Linked DNA regions of Homo sapiens. The protein of the gene in region 1 purifies or fractionates together with the protein of each later gene. This does not show direct contact. Each region holds a gene or a part of one and is shown in the gene's direction. Other genes may lie near its edges.

Evidence for each region.
Region 2: the proteins of RRM2 (region 1) and INPPL1 purify together in Homo sapiens (affinity purification with mass spectrometry; 3 studies listed by BioGRID and IntAct, with this or other methods). This does not show direct contact.
Region 3: the proteins of RRM2 (region 1) and ANAPC4 purify together in Homo sapiens (affinity purification with mass spectrometry; 3 studies listed by BioGRID and IntAct, with this or other methods). This does not show direct contact.

What each region holds. Positions count from the first base shown.
Region 1 is NC_000002.12:10,125,667-10,131,952, forward strand, and holds the end of RRM2 (ribonucleoside-diphosphate reductase subunit M2), read left to right. Parts: intron 1-1,208; coding exon 1,209-1,303; intron 1,304-1,420; coding exon 1,421-1,554; intron 1,555-3,181; coding exon 3,182-3,286; intron 3,287-3,374; coding exon 3,375-3,488; intron 3,489-3,567; coding exon 3,568-3,720; 3' UTR 3,721-5,748; downstream 5,749-6,286. UniProt on the Homo sapiens protein: Provides the precursors necessary for DNA synthesis. Catalyzes the biosynthesis of deoxyribonucleotides from the corresponding ribonucleotides. Inhibits Wnt signaling.
Region 2 is NC_000011.10:72,220,542-72,227,766, forward strand, and holds the start of INPPL1 (phosphatidylinositol 3,4,5-trisphosphate 5-phosphatase 2), read left to right. Parts: upstream 1-4,225; 5' UTR 4,226-4,443; coding exon 4,444-4,625; intron 4,626-7,225. Other genes in the region: FOLR2 (folate receptor beta), read left to right, coding at 329-517, 635-770, 929-1,221. UniProt on the Homo sapiens protein: Phosphatidylinositol (PtdIns) phosphatase that specifically hydrolyzes the 5-phosphate of phosphatidylinositol-3,4,5-trisphosphate (PtdIns(3,4,5)P3) to produce PtdIns(3,4)P2, thereby negatively regulating the PI3K (phosphoinositide 3-kinase) pathways.
Region 3 is NC_000004.12:25,387,248-25,394,357, forward strand, and holds part of ANAPC4 (anaphase-promoting complex subunit 4), read left to right. Parts: intron 1-1,252; coding exon 1,253-1,327; intron 1,328-1,469; coding exon 1,470-1,496; intron 1,497-1,590; coding exon 1,591-1,635; intron 1,636-2,888; coding exon 2,889-2,973; intron 2,974-3,663; coding exon 3,664-3,768; intron 3,769-5,090; coding exon 5,091-5,174; intron 5,175-6,557; coding exon 6,558-6,644; intron 6,645-7,062; coding exon 7,063-7,110. UniProt on the Homo sapiens protein: Component of the anaphase promoting complex/cyclosome (APC/C), a cell cycle-regulated E3 ubiquitin ligase that controls progression through mitosis and the G1 phase of the cell cycle.

The sequences.
Region 1 (6,286 bases):
CTCAAAAAGCAAAACCAAGCAAAAAAAACAAAGGTCAGCTTTGGGGACCAGAACCTTGTATGGAGTGGAAGTGGTGAAGCTGCAACCTAAAGTAGCCGTTGTAGACTTTGAAGTACATGAAGAGGAAAAGTGGTAACTTGAAAGGACTGAGGAAACATTGGGAGTAAAGAGATTTGAACATGTTTATAGGTGGAAATTGAGAAAAGAAGGCAAAGATTAGGGGTACGATCGGGGGCAAATGCCCAGAAGGGGAACAGGAAGGTCTGCTGGGGAAGCCTCAAAAACAAGGGAGAGGCAGACCCAGGTCTCAGAGAGAGGGACAGTGAGATGGAAAGAATGAACGACAGCTGGGCATGGTAGTCTGAGCTAGTAGTCCCAGCTACTTGGCAGGCTGAGGCAGAAGGATGGCTTGAGCCCTGGAGTTTGGTTTTACCGTGAGCTGTGATCATCTCGCTGCACTCTAGCCTGGGCAACAGAGTGAGACCCTCATCTCTTTAAAAAAAAAAAAAAAAAAAAAAAAAAAAAAGCTGCCCAATGTCTGGTGCCCTTGGCTTCAGAACACAAAGTCATCTGGGTAGGAACAGTCTGGGAAATGAGTAGCCTCTCAAGGTGGGCACCAGAATAAAGGGAGGCAGAGGAGGGTGGTAAGGGAGATCCAGTTAACTGTAGTACCCATGGATTTGCTTTCCTGACCTGGGATCGACAGTGTAGCACAGAGTCCTAGTAGGAAGCAATCTTAGTTTATTGGTTTAATTATTTTATGATATAGGTGTGGCAACTGAGGCCAAATAATGCACCTAATCATAGTCTGATAATAGCACAGCAGTTAGGATTTTATGGTTCTTCAAATTTAAATTCTATGATTCTTCAAATTGAACAATGATCTGGACTTGAAATAATTTTAAAGGCAACAAATGTCCCTGCTGTACTGGACTATGTTTTACTGTCTGTAGACCCTGAAGCTCAATATGAACTACAGAATACCCAAACTTGTATTAATGTAAATCAAGTGTTGAGGTTTTTAAAAGAACACTGGAGGGAAAAACTGACCAGTAAAAATAAAACATTTCGGTGTGAGTTCTTCCTTTAGGAAGAGGATTGGCAAATACTTGAATTTGGCCTTTGTCCCAGAGCTCTTATCTAGCAGTTGGTAATCGGAGGTCTTTTACTGTAATGCTTCAATTGCTGATACCGTATGTGCCTACTAGGGAATTTCTCTTCAATGCCATTGAAACGATGCCTTGTGTCAAGAAGAAGGCAGACTGGGCCTTGCGCTGGATTGGGGACAAAGAGGCTACCTATGGTAAGGAGACCCTTGCCCCTACTTAAACCTGAGCTTCATTTTCCAAGTAATGTTACTGGATTTTTGGCCCTTGAATACCAACTCACTAGAATCATGTTGGTGTTAACTCCTAAATAGGTGAACGTGTTGTAGCCTTTGCTGCAGTGGAAGGCATTTTCTTTTCCGGTTCTTTTGCGTCGATATTCTGGCTCAAGAAACGAGGACTGATGCCTGGCCTCACATTTTCTAATGAACTTATTAGCAGAGATGAGGTGAGTCTAAGTCAAATAATAGGGTGACCTAAACCCCAAACACAACTCGGGCATGCTCTTGTGTTCACTGACGGGGACCTGAGATGCTAGATGGCATATATCCACATTTAATGTGTGAGTTCAACCATACACATACTTGACAAAAGAAGGAAATACTTTCATTTACTGAAACTGTTTTACTTGCATTCTCAATATATTGTAATACATTTGTACATATGTATTCCCCTATAGGCTTTGAATGCATAAAACTACAAGTTCTTTGTTTTTTGAGGTGACGGAATCTTGCTCTGTCGTTCCAGGCTGGAGTGCAATGGCGTGATCTTGGCTCACTGCAACCTCTGCCTCCTAGGTTCAAGTGATTCTCCCGCCTCAGCCTCCCAAGTAGCTGGGATTGTAGGTGCCTGCCACCATGCCCAGCTAATTTTCGTCTTTTTATACAGACGGGGTTTCACCATGTTTGCCAGACTGGGGTTGAACTCCTGACCTCAGGTGATCAGGTGATCCACCCGCCTCGGCCTCCCAGAGTGCTGGGATTATAGGCATGAGCCACCATGCCCAGCCAAAACTACAAGTTATTGATGGGATTGGGATTTTAAGGGATGTTTTATTATTTTTGCCTGGTATTAATATGTTATCCCTTTTTCCGTAAAAATGTTCATAGTAGAGCCAGGAGCGGTGGCTCATGCCTGTAATCCCAGCACTTTGGTAGGCCGAGGCGGGTGGATCATGAGGTCAGGAGATTGAGACCATCCTGGCTAACACGGTGAAACCCCATCTCTACTAAAAATACAAAAAATTAGCCGGGTATGGTGGACGTGCCTATTGTCCCAGCTACTTGAGAGGCTGAGGTAGGAGAATCGCCTGAACCTGGGAGGTGGAGGTTGCAGTGAGTCAAGATCACACCACTGCACTCCAGCCTGGGTGACAGTCCCCCCGAAAAAGAATGTTCATAGTAGCCATTATGTTTCTCCTGTTTGATCTAGAAATTGCCCCTCTACTTCAATATTAATAAGCATTTCAATGAAATGAGTATACATTTTGGTCTAGTGTATGTCTTTGATTAAGTCACATTTGAAAAGCCAGGAGCATGAACTCCATCTTACTTGGAGCCCAGTGGGCAAATCAAATATGGTTACCTTGTAGGAGGGCCTTCCTTACTGGATTGGGAGATAAGCTGTGAAGCTTGATGTTTAATGCAGTAACTTGCAAACTTGATTTACTTGAAATTGCATACAAATTTCCTGAGCATCTAAAAACTAGCCTTATTACTGAGCTTTGCCTTTCCTGCTGGGAGTAGTGGCAAAATTAGCACTCATGGCTGTAGAAAGATCACTGAGTGAAGCTCTGACTCCTCCTTTGCCAACACACAGCAGAGCAAGAAATACACCTTGCCTGTCTTCATCTAGGTGGCAACTTTGAGGGTCTTGAATGGGACTGAGCTTGCCTTGGTAGTGACATCAGCAGAGAAGTCAGTAGTTGAAGTCATCTTCCCTTTGAGAGTTCAAGTGCTCTCAGTATGGCTGAGCATGTTGGATAAGGAGAATGCAGAAAAGGACAAAGTAATTTCATATTCCATGTTAATGACAGAAGTCTTCTGGCTTTAGTGATCTTGAACTTTTTTTTCTAGGGTTTACACTGTGATTTTGCTTGCCTGATGTTCAAACACCTGGTACACAAACCATCGGAGGAGAGAGTAAGAGAAATAATTATCAATGCTGTTCGGATAGAACAGGTAAAGTGGGTGATGAAATGGGTCACTCAAGCTTGCTAGAAAATGCCTGTGCTTTAGTTGTATTCAGAAGCTGTATTTTGGTTCCTAGGAGTTCCTCACTGAGGCCTTGCCTGTGAAGCTCATTGGGATGAATTGCACTCTAATGAAGCAATACATTGAGTTTGTGGCAGACAGACTTATGCTGGAACTGGGTTTTAGCAAGGTAAAGTATTGTTTACATAGCCTTTTGCTTGTTTTGAAGCTGGTGCTCTGTATTTATATCTTGATGTGAACCTTTTCAGGTTTTCAGAGTAGAGAACCCATTTGACTTTATGGAGAATATTTCACTGGAAGGAAAGACTAACTTCTTTGAGAAGAGAGTAGGCGAGTATCAGAGGATGGGAGTGATGTCAAGTCCAACAGAGAATTCTTTTACCTTGGATGCTGACTTCTAAATGAACTGAAGATGTGCCCTTACTTGGCTGATTTTTTTTTTCCATCTCATAAGAAAAATCAGCTGAAGTGTTACCAACTAGCCACACCATGAATTGTCCGTAATGTTCATTAACAGCATCTTTAAAACTGTGTAGCTACCTCACAACCAGTCCTGTCTGTTTATAGTGCTGGTAGTATCACCTTTTGCCAGAAGGCCTGGCTGGCTGTGACTTACCATAGCAGTGACAATGGCAGTCTTGGCTTTAAAGTGAGGGGTGACCCTTTAGTGAGCTTAGCACAGCGGGATTAAACAGTCCTTTAACCAGCACAGCCAGTTAAAAGATGCAGCCTCACTGCTTCAACGCAGATTTTAATGTTTACTTAAATATAAACCTGGCACTTTACAAACAAATAAACATTGTTTGTACTCACAAGGCGATAATAGCTTGATTTATTTGGTTTCTACACCAAATACATTCTCCTGACCACTAATGGGAGCCAATTCACAATTCACTAAGTGACTAAAGTAAGTTAAACTTGTGTAGACTAAGCATGTAATTTTTAAGTTTTATTTTAATGAATTAAAATATTTGTTAACCAACTTTAAAGTCAGTCCTGTGTATACCTAGATATTAGTCAGTTGGTGCCAGATAGAAGACAGGTTGTGTTTTTATCCTGTGGCTTGTGTAGTGTCCTGGGATTCTCTGCCCCCTCTGAGTAGAGTGTTGTGGGATAAAGGAATCTCTCAGGGCAAGGAGCTTCTTAAGTTAAATCACTAGAAATTTAGGGGTGATCTGGGCCTTCATATGTGTGAGAAGCCGTTTCATTTTATTTCTCACTGTATTTTCCTCAACGTCTGGTTGATGAGAAAAAATTCTTGAAGAGTTTTCATATGTGGGAGCTAAGGTAGTATTGTAAAATTTCAAGTCATCCTTAAACAAAATGATCCACCTAAGATCTTGCCCCTGTTAAGTGGTGAAATCAACTAGAGGTGGTTCCTACAAGTTGTTCATTCTAGTTTTGTTTGGTGTAAGTAGGTTGTGTGAGTTAATTCATTTATATTTACTATGTCTGTTAAATCAGAAATTTTTTATTATCTATGTTCTTCTAGATTTTACCTGTAGTTCATACTTCAGTCACCCAGTGTCTTATTCTGGCATTGTCTAAATCTGAGCATTGTCTAGGGGGATCTTAAACTTTAGTAGGAAACCATGAGCTGTTAATACAGTTTCCATTCAAATATTAATTTCAGAATGAAACATAATTTTTTTTTTTTTTTTTGAGATGGAGTCTCGCTCTGTTGCCCAGGCTGGAGTGCAGTGGCGCGATTTTGGCTCACTGTAACCTCCATCTCCTGGGTTCAAGCAATTCTCCTGTCTCAGCCTCCCTAGTAGCTGGGACTGCAGGTATGTGCTACCACACCTGGCTAATTTTTGTATTTTTAGTAGAGATGGAGTTTCACCATATTGGTCAGGCTGGTCTTGAACTCCTGACCTCAGGTGATCCACCCACCTCGGCCTCCCAAAGTGCTGGGATTGCAGGCGTGATAAACAAATATTCTTAATAGGGCTACTTTGAATTAATCTGCCTTTATGTTTGGGAGAAGAAAGCTGAGACATTGCATGAAAGATGATGAGAGATAAATGTTGATCTTTTGGCCCCATTTGTTAATTGTATTCAGTATTTGAACGTCGTCCTGTTTATTGTTAGTTTTCTTCATCATTTATTGTATAGACAATTTTTAAATCTCTGTAATATGATACATTTTCCTATCTTTTAAGTTATTGTTACCTAAAGTTAATCCAGATTATATGGTCCTTATATGTGTACAACATTAAAATGAAAGGCTTTGTCTTGCATTGTGAGGTACAGGCGGAAGTTGGAATCAGGTTTTAGGATTCTGTCTCTCATTAGCTGAATAATGTGAGGATTAACTTCTGCCAGCTCAGACCATTTCCTAATCAGTTGAAAGGGAAACAAGTATTTCAGTCTCAAAATTGAATAATGCACAAGTCTTAAGTGATTAAAATAAAACTGTTCTTATGTCAGTTTCTTGATTGGTAAAATTTGCATTTTAATTCAGGAAGAGAAATATTTTTTGGCCAGGCATGGCTGTAATCCCAGCACTTTGGGAGACCAAGGTAGGCAGATCACCTGAGCTCAGGAGTTCGAGATCAGCCTGGCCAACATGGTGACACCCCATCTCTACTAAAAATACAAAAATTAGCCTGGCATGGTGGCACACGCCTGTAATCCCAGCTACTCGTGAGGCTGAGGCAGGAGAATCACTTGAACCCGGGAGGCAGAGGTTGCAGTGAGCTGAGATTGCACCGCTGCACTCCAGCCTGGGCAGCAGAGTGAGACTGTCTGAAAAAAAAAGGTGTTTTTTGTAAAGGCTAACGAATTCATTTGCTTTCCACTGGTTCTGGGCAAGAGACTTGCCTTGTGCCTATTGGCACAAGGTGTATAGGAGACAGGTACACCCGAAAGGTGGTGCCCAAAAATACTAACTGCCATACTGCACGTGGGGTTTGTGAAGCCGGGGCTGAGTTAACTTCTCAACCGTGGGGGAGCCACTCCTGGGGC
Region 2 (7,225 bases), on another chromosome or scaffold:
CATAAAGTAGGTGCTCAATAATTTTTAAATGAGTAAGTGAAAGGACTTTTTATGAAGTGTTACATACCTCATAAATGATAACTATTATTCCCAAGACAGGGTTTCCCCTGGGCTCCCACAGTCCCCTGATCACACGGTTGTAATTGTGTTTCCTCCAAGAAAGGGGTTCCTGGAGGCCTAGGAGAGAGGGACCATCATCTGGGAACCTGAGTGTTCTCAGGACAACCTGCCTAGGGCAGAGGAGTAAGAACCAAATGGGGGAGAGACACGAGGTGGCAGGAGGAGGAGGGTATGGGGAGGCACTTAGTCCTGTGTCTTCCCCACCCAGTGCAGTCCCTGGAAGAAGAATGCCTGCTGCACAGCCAGCACCAGCCAGGAGCTGCACAAGGACACCTCCCGCCTGTACAACTTTAACTGGGACCACTGCGGCAAGATGGAGCCCGCCTGCAAGCGCCACTTCATCCAGGACACCTGTCTCTATGAGTGCTCACCCAACCTGGGGCCCTGGATCCAGCAGGTAGGGTGTCTCCCCCCCACCCACCCCAGCAGACTGCCATCCCCCTCAGTCACTTCAAGGCGATGGCTGCCAGCATCCCTGGCTGAGAGGAGCCCTGCCTCCCCACCTCCCACCCAGGTGAATCAGAGCTGGCGCAAAGAACGCTTCCTGGATGTGCCCTTATGCAAAGAGGACTGTCAGCGCTGGTGGGAGGATTGTCACACCTCCCACACGTGCAAGAGCAACTGGCACAGAGGATGGGACTGGACCTCAGGTGAGGGTGATTGAGTTGGGGTTAGGAAAAAGGAGATTGAGGTAGGGTTTGGAAAATCTTCAAGGATTTGGGGTGGGGTGAAGATTTCTGGGGGTGGCCAGAAATGAGCTTTGGGCCCAGGGGCTGAAAGTCTGTGTCCACCATGCCTCTCCCTGCAGGAGTTAACAAGTGCCCAGCTGGGGCTCTCTGCCGCACCTTTGAGTCCTACTTCCCCACTCCAGCTGCCCTTTGTGAAGGCCTCTGGAGTCACTCATACAAGGTCAGCAACTACAGCCGAGGGAGCGGCCGCTGCATCCAGATGTGGTTTGATTCAGCCCAGGGCAACCCCAACGAGGAAGTGGCGAGGTTCTATGCTGCAGCCATGCATGTGAATGCTGGTGAGATGCTTCATGGGACTGGGGGTCTCCTGCTCAGTCTGGCCCTGATGCTGCAACTCTGGCTCCTTGGCTGAGTTCAGTCCTCCCAGACTACCTGCCCTCAGCTTGGATAACCAGGCTGGGCTCAGCTCAGCTCCCACAAATGACAGCCCCTTAAGCATGCTTCTATTAGTCACCTAACCCTCTGTCACCCAGTCTGTTGCTGCTCCATGGTGGGGCCAAGAGTCACTTCTAATAAACAGACTGTTTTCTAATAATTCCATGTCTGTGGAATTGTTTTGGTTGTGAGTTTGTGGGTGGGTGGGAGACAGATTCTACGGCTTCTGGATTCCTTCAAATTAGAGCAACTAGACCTGTGTTTGAATCCCAGCTCTGCTACTTTGTGAAAATGAAACAGTTGCTTCACTGCTCTAAACCTTTGTTTCCTTCTGGATAAAAAGAGGATAATAGTCCTGCCCTCAGGCTTGTGAAATATACAGGAGCTGTTGCCTAGAAAGCCCGTGAGCCCAGTGTCTGCACATTAATAGTCTTCAGGGATCCTGTTGTTCCTGTTGCCCCAAGTGGGAGCCAGGTCCTGAGCTTATTTGTCTTGGTCTCCAAACAGCCTCCTGGTCCTCCAGCCCTTGTGCCTGGCTCTGTGCTCGGCTCTGTAACAGGAAAGCTGGGAATGGGAGTCCAGGAAAGGATTCAGATTGCCAGTGGGATGAAAAAAATTCACAGTGGGATGAAAAAAACGTGATGCACATTGAAGGAGCAGAGTTGGGGCCTGGGACTCTCAGAGGAAAAACAGAGCCAATTGGAGAGGGCAGTGTAGGGGGTTTCTGGAGTGGAATACTCAAGAGCCTGGAACTGGTTCAGCGCTTTGGTGTCCTGGAGGTGTGGCTGGAAGAGTTAGAAACCCTTAAGGGCTTCCCGGGGTCAGGAGCCTCTGGCACCTTTGTCTCCTCCTGGGATTGGCAGATATGCCTATCTTGAGGGGGTTGCTCTGTCTTTGCAAAGCCCTCGGGAGCTGGGCCTAAGTTATCTCTGGGTCTCCCAACACCCCTTTCCCTTTGGATAAGTCTTTGTTTGCACACTCCTACTACAACTGTCCCCAGAGAGGCCCAGGTAAGTCTCTGAGAACACCCTGCAGGTAGGTGGCCCAGCTAGGACTAGAACCCAGGTGTGCAGACTCCCAGTCCAGGTCTCTCCCCCACTACCAAGGATTCCCCTCACATCAGGCTCATCTTTTCTTATACTAAAAGGTGGCTGATGAGAACGGTGGCACAGATTGTAGGATGAGTTATTGGGTTCTGGAGGCACTGTTGGGTGGGTGGGTGGATCTCTTAGTTATTATATTTATCTAGTGTGGAAGGCCCCACAGAGCCCCTTCCACGTCCCAGGCTCTGCTCCAGCTGGGTTAAGTCAATGCATATTTGAAATAGAGGAAGGAGCTCGAGGGACTGACCCGGGCTCCGTCAACAGGTTCAACGTAGCAAAGTGAAAGTTCTCTCCCAGGTTAAAGGGATTCTCCCACGGCGGCCCAGGAGATGGTGGCGGCGGGCGCCCGGCTGGAGGCCTGCGCCTTTAAGGAGCCAGGGGGCGGAGGGGCGGGGCAGGAAGACGACTCCCCGGAGACGCCGCCACCGGCTAGGTCTTTTTTTGGGAGGGGGCGGGCCAGACCCTTTTATGGGCTCCGCCCCCTTTGCGGCTGCCGCGTCCCCCTTCCGCCCTCGGCTGGAGGGGAGGAAGCTAGGGGGGCGTTGCAGCGGACCCCGTCTGGGAGCTCCCCGCTGGGCGTCCGGCCCGCGGAGGCGCGAGTTTGCTGACTCGGAGGGAGCCGCTGGGGCGGGGGCGAGTGCTAATAATACCCGTTCGTTCCGCAGCCGCGCTTTACAGTTTACACAGCTGTCACCTTCGTTTCTCCTTAATTAATAATAAAAATAGCCGCCGTTCGGGAGCGCGGGCTGGGCGCCAGGCCCGGTGCCGAGCGCGGTACGAGCTCGGCCCCCAGAGCCGGCCCTCGCCACAGGATCCCCATTTTCCAGAGCGGGAAGCCGACGCTCAACCCCGCGCCGCGACTTGCCCGAGGTCACCCAGTGGGCCAGCGGCTCCGGGACCGAGGCGCGGGGCGGGGTGAGGCGAGGCGCGGTGCTGCCCCCGGCTCCCCGGGGCGGCGCGGGGCGGGGCGGGCGGCGCGGAGGGCGGGGGCGCGCGCGGATGGCCATCTTAAGTGGCCGCCTGGAGCCCAGGGCCGCTGTCCGGGGAAGGGGGCGCCGGAGCAGCCCGGGAGGTGGGGGTCTGCGTGCGGCGGCCGGGATCCCGGGAGGGAACTTTCTACTAGACGGGCCAGGGATCCTCCTGGCTTCGGACTGCTGAACCCCCTCAAGGCCCGGCCTGCGGGTGTGGGGGGTGGTGCTGGGGAACTTGGCCGAGAGGGGGAAGGGCTCTGCGGGGCTGGGAGGGGCTGCGTGAGAGGCTCGAGAACGTCGCACCTCGTCTGGGCCCCCCGCCAGAGTAAGAATCTTCAGAAGCCTGGTTAGCCAGGGAATCTCCCCGCAGGCTTTGCCGGGGGACGGTTCCCGTGGAGTTGGGGGTTCAGATCTAAGAGGGGGCTGCATTTCGCAGGAGTTGGGGGCCCCGCCCGCTTGGGTGGAGGGAAGAGGATGGGTAGGGGGTGGTCCTGGATCCTTCGCAGGTTTGGGGAACTCGATGCAGCCAAGCTGTAAGGGGGACGAGAGGAAGAGCCATGGAGTGGAATCAGACCTTTATGGGGCTTAGGGGTCATATCATTGGGAGAACTGAGAAGCGCTGAATTCTCCAGGGGGTGCCTGGATCCCGAAGTGTCGGGGCCAGGATGGGGGGACTCGGATTTCGATGGGGATTTGGGGACTGGATCTCCTCGGGTGAATGATGGGGGCAGGATCATTGTGGGGTCTGGGAGGTCCCGGGCCCTTCGGGAAGGTGGGGGCACCGTCCCCGCAGGAGGAGCTGGGGGCAGGGGCGGCCCGGGCTGCGGGCCGAGCGGAGGGGGAGGGGGCGGCAGCCGGCCCTGCGCTCCGCTCCTGCCCCTCCCCCGCCGCCTCTGAACAAACTTTTCTTTCTCTTCAAGTTGAGGCCGGCGCTGCAGGCAGCGGCGGCTGCGCGGTGAACGAGGCGGCCTGCGCGGCGGAGTGCTGAGTCCCGATCCCCGGCTCTGTCCGGCCCACGGATCCTCAAGCCCGGGCCCCGGGCCCGGCCCCAGCCTCAGCCCTGAGCGTCTCGGGGCGGATGGCGCGGGGCGGCGGGGGCGGGCGGTGCTGAGCCCTGCGCGGGCCATGGCCTCGGCCTGCGGGGCGCCGGGCCCGGGGGGCGCCCTGGGCAGCCAGGCCCCCTCCTGGTACCACCGCGACCTGAGCCGGGCGGCCGCGGAGGAGCTGCTGGCCCGGGCGGGCCGCGATGGCAGCTTCCTGGTCCGAGACAGCGAGAGCGTGGCGGGGGCCTTCGCGCTCTGCGTCCTGTGAGTGGGGCGGGGGCTCCTTGCGGGCTGGCGTGGACCGGGAGCGCGGGCACGGCCGGGTGTGGAAAGGGCCCGGGTGAGGGTTTCTGGGGCGGTGGGACGCCAGACCCGCCTCCACCCCCCAGAGTGGGAGCCTTGGCTTTCTCCTGGGTCTGAGGAGGGACGCAGGGGCACTTCCTGCTGTGTGTCTGGGGGCACTTTCAGGAGCCTTGAGGGTAGAGAATATGGGGTTCTGTGGCCCAGTGTGACTGTGATGACGAAAAATTCGGGCATTCCCCGGCAGACCCCTTCAGGCATCCTCCAGGTAGAAGGGAGCAGGGGAGAGGATGTGCATTCCACGTTGTGTGCAGTCCCGTTTGGATAGGGACTGAGTGGTGAGCAGGAGAGGGAGTCGGGGCAGAGGGACTGACGGGGTGTGTGGGGATGCCTGGCAGCTTCCTTAGGGCCCCTTTCGGTGCTTTGGGGTTCTGCCTGGCCGTGTATGGGTGGTGGGGGCGGTGATGGGTGGTGTAGAGAGGAAGGCTTGGGGAAGCAGAGGCTGAGGCTGTATGGGACCTTGCCATTATTTCTGAACCAATGAGTGAGTGTTTGAGCCCTGGCTCTGGGCTTGAGCCCTGGTTACCTGGCTGCCCTAGCCCTGAGCTATGAGTGCTGAGTGAGAGCAGAGCCAGACTTGGTGCTTCTCTGAGTGGGCCAGGTCCTGTGGCTGTGCCTTTCAGCCCAGTGTGGTTGGTAGTGGTGCTGGGGTGAGTTAGCACTCTTGGTTTTGCAGCCTTCTAGCGGCTTTGTACCTCCTGCCCTGCAGTCTGACATTGAGTTGGCTTCTGTGGGCCCAGTGAGTGGGAATCTGTGGGGGCTGCTTTATTTAGATCAGTTATTTAGATCTTTATTTAGATCTTTCTTAGCTCTGTGAACCCCCTCCCAAACTCCTGTCCCACTGTACCTTCCTTACCCCTTTGTTCTCCTGACATCTTTGGTCGGGGCGCACATTAGCCTAGACCAGGGGAGACCTTTTTTTTTTTTTTTTTTTTTGAGAAAGAGTCTCGCTCTGTTGCCCAGGCTGGAGTGCAGTAGTGCAATCTCGGCTCACTGCAACCTCCGCCTCCTGGATTCAAGTGATTCTTCTGCCTCTGCCTCGCCAGTAGCTGGGATTACAGGCGCTCGCCACCAAGCCCAGCTAATTTTTGTATTTTTAGTAGAGATGGGGTTTCACCATATTGGCCAGGCTGGTCTTGAACTCCTGACCTCAAGTGATCCACCTGCCCCGGCCTCTCAAAGTGCTAGGATTACAGGTGGAGCCACCTCGCCCAGCTGGGGAGACATTTTTAATTGTCACAACTGGGATGGTGCTATTGACATCTAGTGGGTAGAAGCCGGGGATACTGCTAAACATTCTACAGTGCACAAGAGAGTCCCCCACAACAAAGAACTGTGCAATCCAAAATGTCAGTGGTATGGAGGTTGAAAAACTCTAGCCTAGGCAATTGACCCAACAAGGAAGGGGCCCTATAAGTCTTAGCTTAGGCCTCAAGTCTGAGGCCCAGTAGGGGGAGACTAAGGAGGGACAGACTAGGCAGATGAATATCCCCAAGTCCTGCTTCCCAGCCCCCTCTGAGGCATACCCCCTAATTAGGCTGGGGAGGGAGGCAGGTGCTGGGTCAGCTGTTGAGTGGGAGGGGGACAGCTGGGGCCTGTGTCTGGGTGAGGAACATTATTGTCCCAGGAGGGGGAGAATCCTGGCCTCATTGCCAAGGGAGGCTGTGAATGGGGTGAGGGGTCTGTCTGTGAGTGGGGGCTTCAGGTTTGCCAGCTGACTCTGGCTCTTCCCCGCATCTCAAGAGCCTGGGGGTAAGGATCAGACGTGGGCGATCAGACGTGGGCAATATCTTAGATTTGCCAAATACACACATACTTGCTTACCTGTATACATTCCGGGTGTTCATGGATAACATGCAAGACACGCCCCTGCCCCAGCAGGCACAGGCAATCTGACCAGCAAGCTAGGATACTGGCCCTGGCTTCTGCCATGGTTTAAAATCCCAACTCCACCTTTTACTTACTCTGTGGCCTTAGGAAAATCACTTTTATTCTTTGAGCCTGTTTCCTCAGCTGGAGAATGGGGATAATAATATCTGTTTAGAAGTGTGAGAATTAAGTAAGATTTATAGGACACTGGGTACCCAGCGTGTCACAGATAGGATTCAGTTAATGGTATGCTATTGTAATAAACACAGATAGTGTTTGTAATAGTCTACAAAGGAACACCTGGTGACAGACACTCACCCAGCATAAGCAGCCAGGAGAGTCACCTAGGGTGACTCCTGGGTGACTCCTTGGGGAAGCATGCCCTGAGGTGCGGAGGCAGAGGATCTTCCATCCCCCGCTGATTGTGCACCTGGCTCAGCTGCCACCTGCTCAACTGCGGCTCCTGTCTGTCAGCACCCCTCTTGCCCCTCCTTGGCTTGGGGCTCCTAGAGGCCCAGGTCTCCCATGGGGGCCCTCTTTGGTGGGAAGGCCTAGGGTGATGCCCCCACACTCCTCGGCACAAGTGCCCTAGACATACCCGACTCCAGCAGAGCCAGAGAGCAGCATAAACACAG
Region 3 (7,110 bases), on another chromosome or scaffold:
AAAACAAAAATTGTTTTTCTTTTTTGGGGAAATATGCTAATTTTCTTACCATTAACTTTTCCTTTCTAATTAAGTTATACTAAGGTAATATCAAATGAATTTGTAAATCCTGAATATTAATTGCCAGCTTTCCTAAGGGAAGCCTGAAAGAATTGGATGACAAGGGTTTGACCTGGGGTTTGAAATTCACTGTAGATAAACCAGAGTGATAAATCCATCATCAGATAATGAAGGATTACAAATCGTTATGTGAATATGTAGAATGTTAGAGGGTCAGAGCATATCATGTAATTCCTATTCCAGCCCGGTTATCTGCTGTGTGTATTCCCAACATACTTTCTACTAACAGTTTAGAAGTGTTATGTGGCGATTCCAGGGTCTCTCAAGACAGCTCCTTTTTATTAAAGTAGGAAAAAATACTTGCTAAATCACCACTTTTTTACTTGCTTACTCATTTATTTCCAACCTTATTTGGAGTTAGAATTGAGAAGGAAAAGGGGGTAAATAAGACTATTTCAAAAGGCATGGTGTAGTCTCAAATACCTGTTGGATTATCAAATCCACAAGTGTGTATAAGTCATAGAACCAATAACTAAATCACATAGTAGGCCATGCATAGTGGTTCATGCCTATAATCCTAGCACTTTGGGAGGCTGAGGCAGGAGGAAGGAGTTTCAGACCAGTCTGGGCAACATAGTGAGACCCCCATCTCTAAAAAAAAAAATGTATATATTAGCTGGGTGTGGTGGCTTGCACCTGTAGTCCCAGCTACTCAGGAGGCTGGGGCAGGATGATGGCTTTAGCTCAGAAGGTGAAGGCTGCAGTGAACCATGATCACACCACTGCACTCCGGCCTGGGTGAGACCCTGTCTCATAAATAAAAGATAGTGCTACTCTTAGTAGTCATATGTTTGGTGTGAGTTCTTAAATGAGAGTTAAGAAATCATAAATTCTCAGTATCTGAGTACATATGAATGCATTTCATATGCTAAGAAAAGTGTTTATTAATATCATTTCTCTAAATGTAACGTGTGCAGGCTGATGTTTTTTTTCCCCTAAAATAACAGAAATTCCTACTTTTCAATTTCCTATTTGGGACTGTTAAACTGACTACAACTGTATAGTATTTGTGTCATCTATTTACTTGATAATGTTGTAAAACTGGGTATCTTTTTTAAAAATTAGCATTTTTAATGGCAAGAGAAGTAAAATCTTTGGTGTTTTTATAATGCTTTTATTTTTTCCTTTTTAGTGTTCTCACATCATTTTATAATGCTGAGGATGAATCAAATCTTCTCTTACCTAAACTACCTACACTGCCAAAAAAGTATGTATCACTGGTTTCTTTGAAATTAATCTTGCAGATTTCTCTTTCTTCTGCTTTTAACACTGTGACAATTTTCTCATGCGTTTTAAAATATGTATTTTTACTAAGAGTATTTTTTACCTTAATCTCTGTTTCCTTCTAGCTATAGCAACACCTCAAAAATATTTAGGTAAGATACGCCTTTTCTTGTTTTCAAGTAAGATAATCTGCTATTATTTGGAAGACAGAATTGAAAGATGACCCAATTTACTTCTATATTTTAGTGAAGAAAATTCTGATGAAATTATTAAGCTCTTGGGAGACGTCAGGTAAATCTTACAGATAAATAAGTCTAATTTCTTAAAGTTATTTCATATTTGAGGCAGTTTTCAGAAGCTTTAAGAGCAAATCCTTTATTTGCCATTTTATTTCATTGTTTTTTGTTTTTGTTTTCTTTTTGAGATGGAGTCTCTGTCACCCAGGCTGGAGTGCAGTGTCGTGATATTGGCTCACTACAACCTCTACTTCCTGGGCACAAGCGATTCTCCTGTCTCAGCCTCCTCCGAGTAGCTGGGACTACAGGCACGCGCCACCACACCCAGCTAATTTTTTTTTTTTTTTTTTGAGACGGAGTCTCGCTCTGTTGCCAGGCTGGAGTACAGTGGCGTTATCTCGGCTCACTGCAACCTCCGCCTTCCTGGTTCAAGTGATTCTTCTGCCTCAGCCTCCCGAGTAGCTGGGACTACAGGCACCCGCCACCAGGCCTGTCTAATTTTTTTATTTTTAGTAGGGACGGGGTTTCACCATGTTGGCCAGGATGGTCTCGATCTCTTGACCTCGTGATCCACCCGCCTTAGCCTCCAAAAGCGCTGGGATTACAGGCGTGAGCCACCGCGCCTGGCCTAATTTTTGTATTTTTAGTAGAGACGGGGTTTCACCATGTTGGCCAGGCTGGTCTCAGACTCCCAACCTCAGATGATCCACCCGCCTTGGCCTCCCAAAGTGTTGGGATTACAGGCATGAGCCACCGCACCTGGCCTTATCGTTGACATTAATACCTTCAAACAATATATAGACCTTAATATCTATTATTGTTTTTATTGTGTGGCCTTTCGTTTTATGAAGTTTTAATAATAATATGATGTACATATGTTTATTTTAATAAGTTAAAGGATATAAGTACTAGAGTTTCTAAAATTTTAAGTATTCATGTTTTTTAAGCCCATTTAATATATTTAGCATCATAACCATGATAAAACTGATGGCACTTTGTATTAGTTGGTAAAAGGATTGTTTTGTTATTGAGAGTGTATAAATATAGTTGTTATTAAAATAATGTATTCTTATTTTACTGTAAGCTGATTTTTTTTTAGGCTAGAGGAAATTTGTGTTCTTTGAAAAAAGGAATGAGCCTGATGTGACTGAATATTGAGTGTTAGTGGATTTGATGTCTCACTTCCCTCTGCAGGGGAGCTTTAGCATGTAGATTATATGAAAGCAGTAATAATTTATATCTCGCTTTAACAATGCAATCATCTGTGTTGTTGATTGGTTCTCAGCTTGTTGCATTGTTTTTAATTAGGCTTAATATTCTCGTCCTTGGAGGAAGCTCTGGATTTATTGAGCTTTATGCTTATGGAATGTTTAAAATTGCTCGAGTCACAGGGGTAAGATTTCTTTAACATTTTCTCTTCCTAAATTATTTCTCTTAGAATATACTAGGTACTTATGGAAAAAGAATAAAACACTAGGTTTTTTTTCAGTTTCGATTTTTGGAATTATTCTTAAATGTTCAGAGACTAATTTCCTTACTAAGATAAAATAATTGTGATATGTCTATAAAGATTGGGAGCTATTTGTGGAATTAGTCAAGTTTTTTTTTCTTTTTCTTTAACAGAAAGATTAGTATGATACACTTGATTATGATTTGATGTTTTTCTAGTGTGAGATGTAAAAGAGCTTCAATTTGTGATTGGAATGTAAATCTTCAGAAGCATTCTTAAGTCCAGTACTGACTGTACTATAGTTGCTACGTCTCAGTCTTCTCCATAGCTTTTTCATCAGACTCTTACACTCGCAAAAGGGGTAGAAAATATTGTAGGCTCTGTGGAATATGTTGGTTCTGCAGCACTTGATTTGAGACTTGGGTAGGGGTGAGGGAACCAGGTTATTTTTGTGGCCTTGTAACTAGAAAGGTCCATGCAGGCAGACACCTACCTTCATCTGCTACATGTGTGTGGCTGGAGCTGGGAATTTGTTTCTGCTTTTTAAAGCTCTGAGTTTTTGCTTTCTGCATGATAATCAGCTTCAACCTAGCAGTGATACTAAATATACTAAGGGGTTTGACTCTTTTACAGATTGCTGGTACTTGTCTTGCATTATGTTTATCAAGTGATTTGAAATCATTATCAGTGGTCACAGAAGTCTCTACCAATGGTGCTTCAGAAGTTTCATACTTTCAGGTGAGTATTGGAACTTGATAACGGTAGAGAGTAAATATGTATTTAACAGGTTTTATATAGGTTTTTATCCACATCTCACTGTATTGTAATGATCATTAAAATAATGCAAAAAAATCGACTTGGAATTTCTACATCCTAATATACTGAGTGTTATTATAGTGAATACCATATTATTCTTCCCATGCTCCAATACAGTTTTCATAAAAAGTGTTTTGGTGGTCTATTAATGACCATATTAATTTGTTGCTATTCCAGTTTGACTTTGTACCAAGTGTTTGCTTAGGACTCTGTCCCTGATAATAACAAAGGTTAATATTTATTGATTGTTTAATATGTGCCATATGCTGAATGCTTCAGAACAGTTGATTTGAATCTTCACAGCATCATAATAGGCAGATACTGTTATTATCCCCATTTTATAGGTAAGTACATGGACACACAAATACTTCAGAACTTGCTTGATGTCACAGGATGGGAAAGTGATGCTAGACAATCTGGCTGCATAATCTGTGCTCTTAACTAGCACATTGCATCTTGTGTAAAATGATCACTTAATATTGGGAAAATGCTTTATTGCGTGCTGTCTGCATTGTAGATTAAGGAAGCTAACTGGGCTCCCATAGAGTATTTAGATCATAGCCTTGCCAAGAAATCGAAAATTTTCATCTTAAATATCCCAGCCACTTAAGTATGTGTGAACTCTCAAACAAAAGTAGAACAAAAAAGATGCAAGATGCAATGTGTGTGATGTCTTCCAACATTCTCTTTGTATTCAGAGCATCAGAGAACTCTTGGTTTACTGTTCACTATGGTAATGGTTGTTCATATTTGCTCATCTTCTTAAGGTTATGTGAAACTATGATCACCAGGATTGCATTTGGATTATAATAAAATGATTCACTACTACTGTGAAGTTGGTAACAGATCATTTTTAATGACAAATTTATTAAGATACAATTCATATACCATTGATAGATATTTTCCCAATATTTATCAGTAGCCTTTAATTCCTTATACTTCCTTTAAGTTTTTACATATATTTGTGATTTAAACATTTCTTTGTAATACTGTTTCAAAATAGGTTATATTACATTTATTCTATCTACACAGGAGGGGTTGATAACCCAGAGAGAGTGATTTGTGTATGGTTATGTGTAGGTTAGGAGATCCTAAGGCTATGTGCTGTTTCCAAACCGTTCTGCTCAAAGAGGGCACAATTCTGACATAGTCTTTCTGATACGTAGTTTGACCCACACTCTAAATTACAGACTTTGCAGCAAGTGCATCTGATGATGACTCACTTTACTCTTTTGATTTTACAGCTTGAAACTAATCTGTTGTACTCTTTCTTACCTGAAGTAACTCGGATGGCCAGAAAGTTTACTCATATTTCAGCTCTGTTACAGGTATTTATTTAGAGCTTGTTTTATGTGAATATTTATTATCGGCTTCTAAAGTTCTGTAAATAAAAAGCTTCAAAATTTTGTTTTGTAAAGCTTTCTGAAGTAGAGGTATCTAGTCTGATAGATGATCTTATAAGGTCCATTAAAGCAGGAAAAGGACATTTAATTGAGAACCTACTTTCACCGCACCCTATTTTCCACCTCCAAAAGAGTTTAAATCTTTTAAAATACTCCCATAAATAAAATACCATTTACATTATAAAGTATTGTGGGAAAAACAGTCTTCACATGAGTTTACATTTGTTCATAATAAACCCACCCCAAATTACCTCCCAATTCTGTAGGTTGGTGATTTAGGCTCAGCTTAGCCAAGATGTTTGGGTGACCTGGAGAAGGTTCAGCTGATCTTGACTAGACTTGGTCATGCCAGCTGGTATGTGTCCCTTGGCTGTGATTCCTTGTCTCTACTCCACATCCTTCATACTCCAGCGAGCCAGCACAGGCTTGTCCACATGGTGGTGGTAACGGGGCATCGAGGGTGCAAGTGGAAGTGTACAAAGACTTTTGAGGCCCTGGAGTCAACAGTGTTATTTCTGCTGCATTCCGTTAGTCAAAGCGAGACTCAAGGGCTGAAGAAATGGACTCTGCATCTGACTGGAGGGGCTACAAAAGATTGTGGCCATGTTTTTCATTCTACCACAGTCATTAATTTATTTGATATTAAAGGTTTCTAGAGATCAGTATCTTTTTAAAATTGAATAATTGACCAAACCAGTATTTTGACAGTTAGTGTAGATAAGACATATCTTATATAAAAAGCTTGGAGATATTTGTTTCACCAGATAAAAATTTAAGAATGTTTTATTATGAAATTCTAAGAATCAATGGAATGTTTCGTAGTTAAGTGATGACCAAGCTGTTGTCTTTTTCTCCATCTTAACTGAGTTAAAAGAGTGATTGAGGCTGGGCACAGTGGCGCACACCTATAATCCCAGCACTTTGGGAGGCTGAGGCAGGTGGATCACTTGAGGCTTGGAGTTCGAGACCAGCCTGGCCAACATGGTAAAGCCCCGTCTCTACTAAAAATACAAAAATTAGCTGGGCATGGTGACGCACGCATATAATACCAGCTACTTGGGAGGCTGAGGCAGGAGAATCGCTTGAACCTGGGAGGCAGAGGTTGCAGTGAGCCAAGATGGCGTCACTGCACTCCAGCCTGGACGACAGAGCAAGACTCTGTCTCGATAAATAAATAATAAAAATAAAACAGTGATTGAAAGTAAATTCTAGATTTCTTTGAGACACTTGATCATAAGCACATATTATTTAGATAGCAAGTTGGTTTAAATATTTTTTACCATTTCAATTTTTCTTTTTTGCTAATAGTATATAAATTTGTCACTAACATGTATGTGTGAAGCATGGGAAGAAATACTAATGCAGATGGATTCTCGTCTCACCAAGTTTGTGCAGGTAAAGCAGCTGAAGTTTCCCATGGAGAGAGTTAAAGAATGCATGATGTATGTCTTTACCTTGAGGTACATGAGAAAAATCAGTTTGATTCATAAAAGGCTAAGATCATAATTTCTTTCAAATGGCTTCGTCTGACTTCAAACTGCTTCCTCAGATTTGCCAAAAGGGCTCTTTTCCCATTGATACAACTTAAGTGGGGACAGGATTGTGAAGTGGAGCTGGTGGGGCTTTGGCAATAAGGGCAGGTGTTAGAACAGCTGATTGGCTATCTTCTAGTCACTGATGTTCAGATGATCACTTTATGGATTTGATGGAAGTCTAAGGCAAGGAAAGGGAGTCATGCTCCTATAATTTTGAATAAATATGCTTATAATTTAAGAAATACATATATCACAATTTTTTTTTCACTTTTTTCCAGGAAAAGAACACAACCACATCAGTGCAAGATGAGTTCATGCACTTGCTA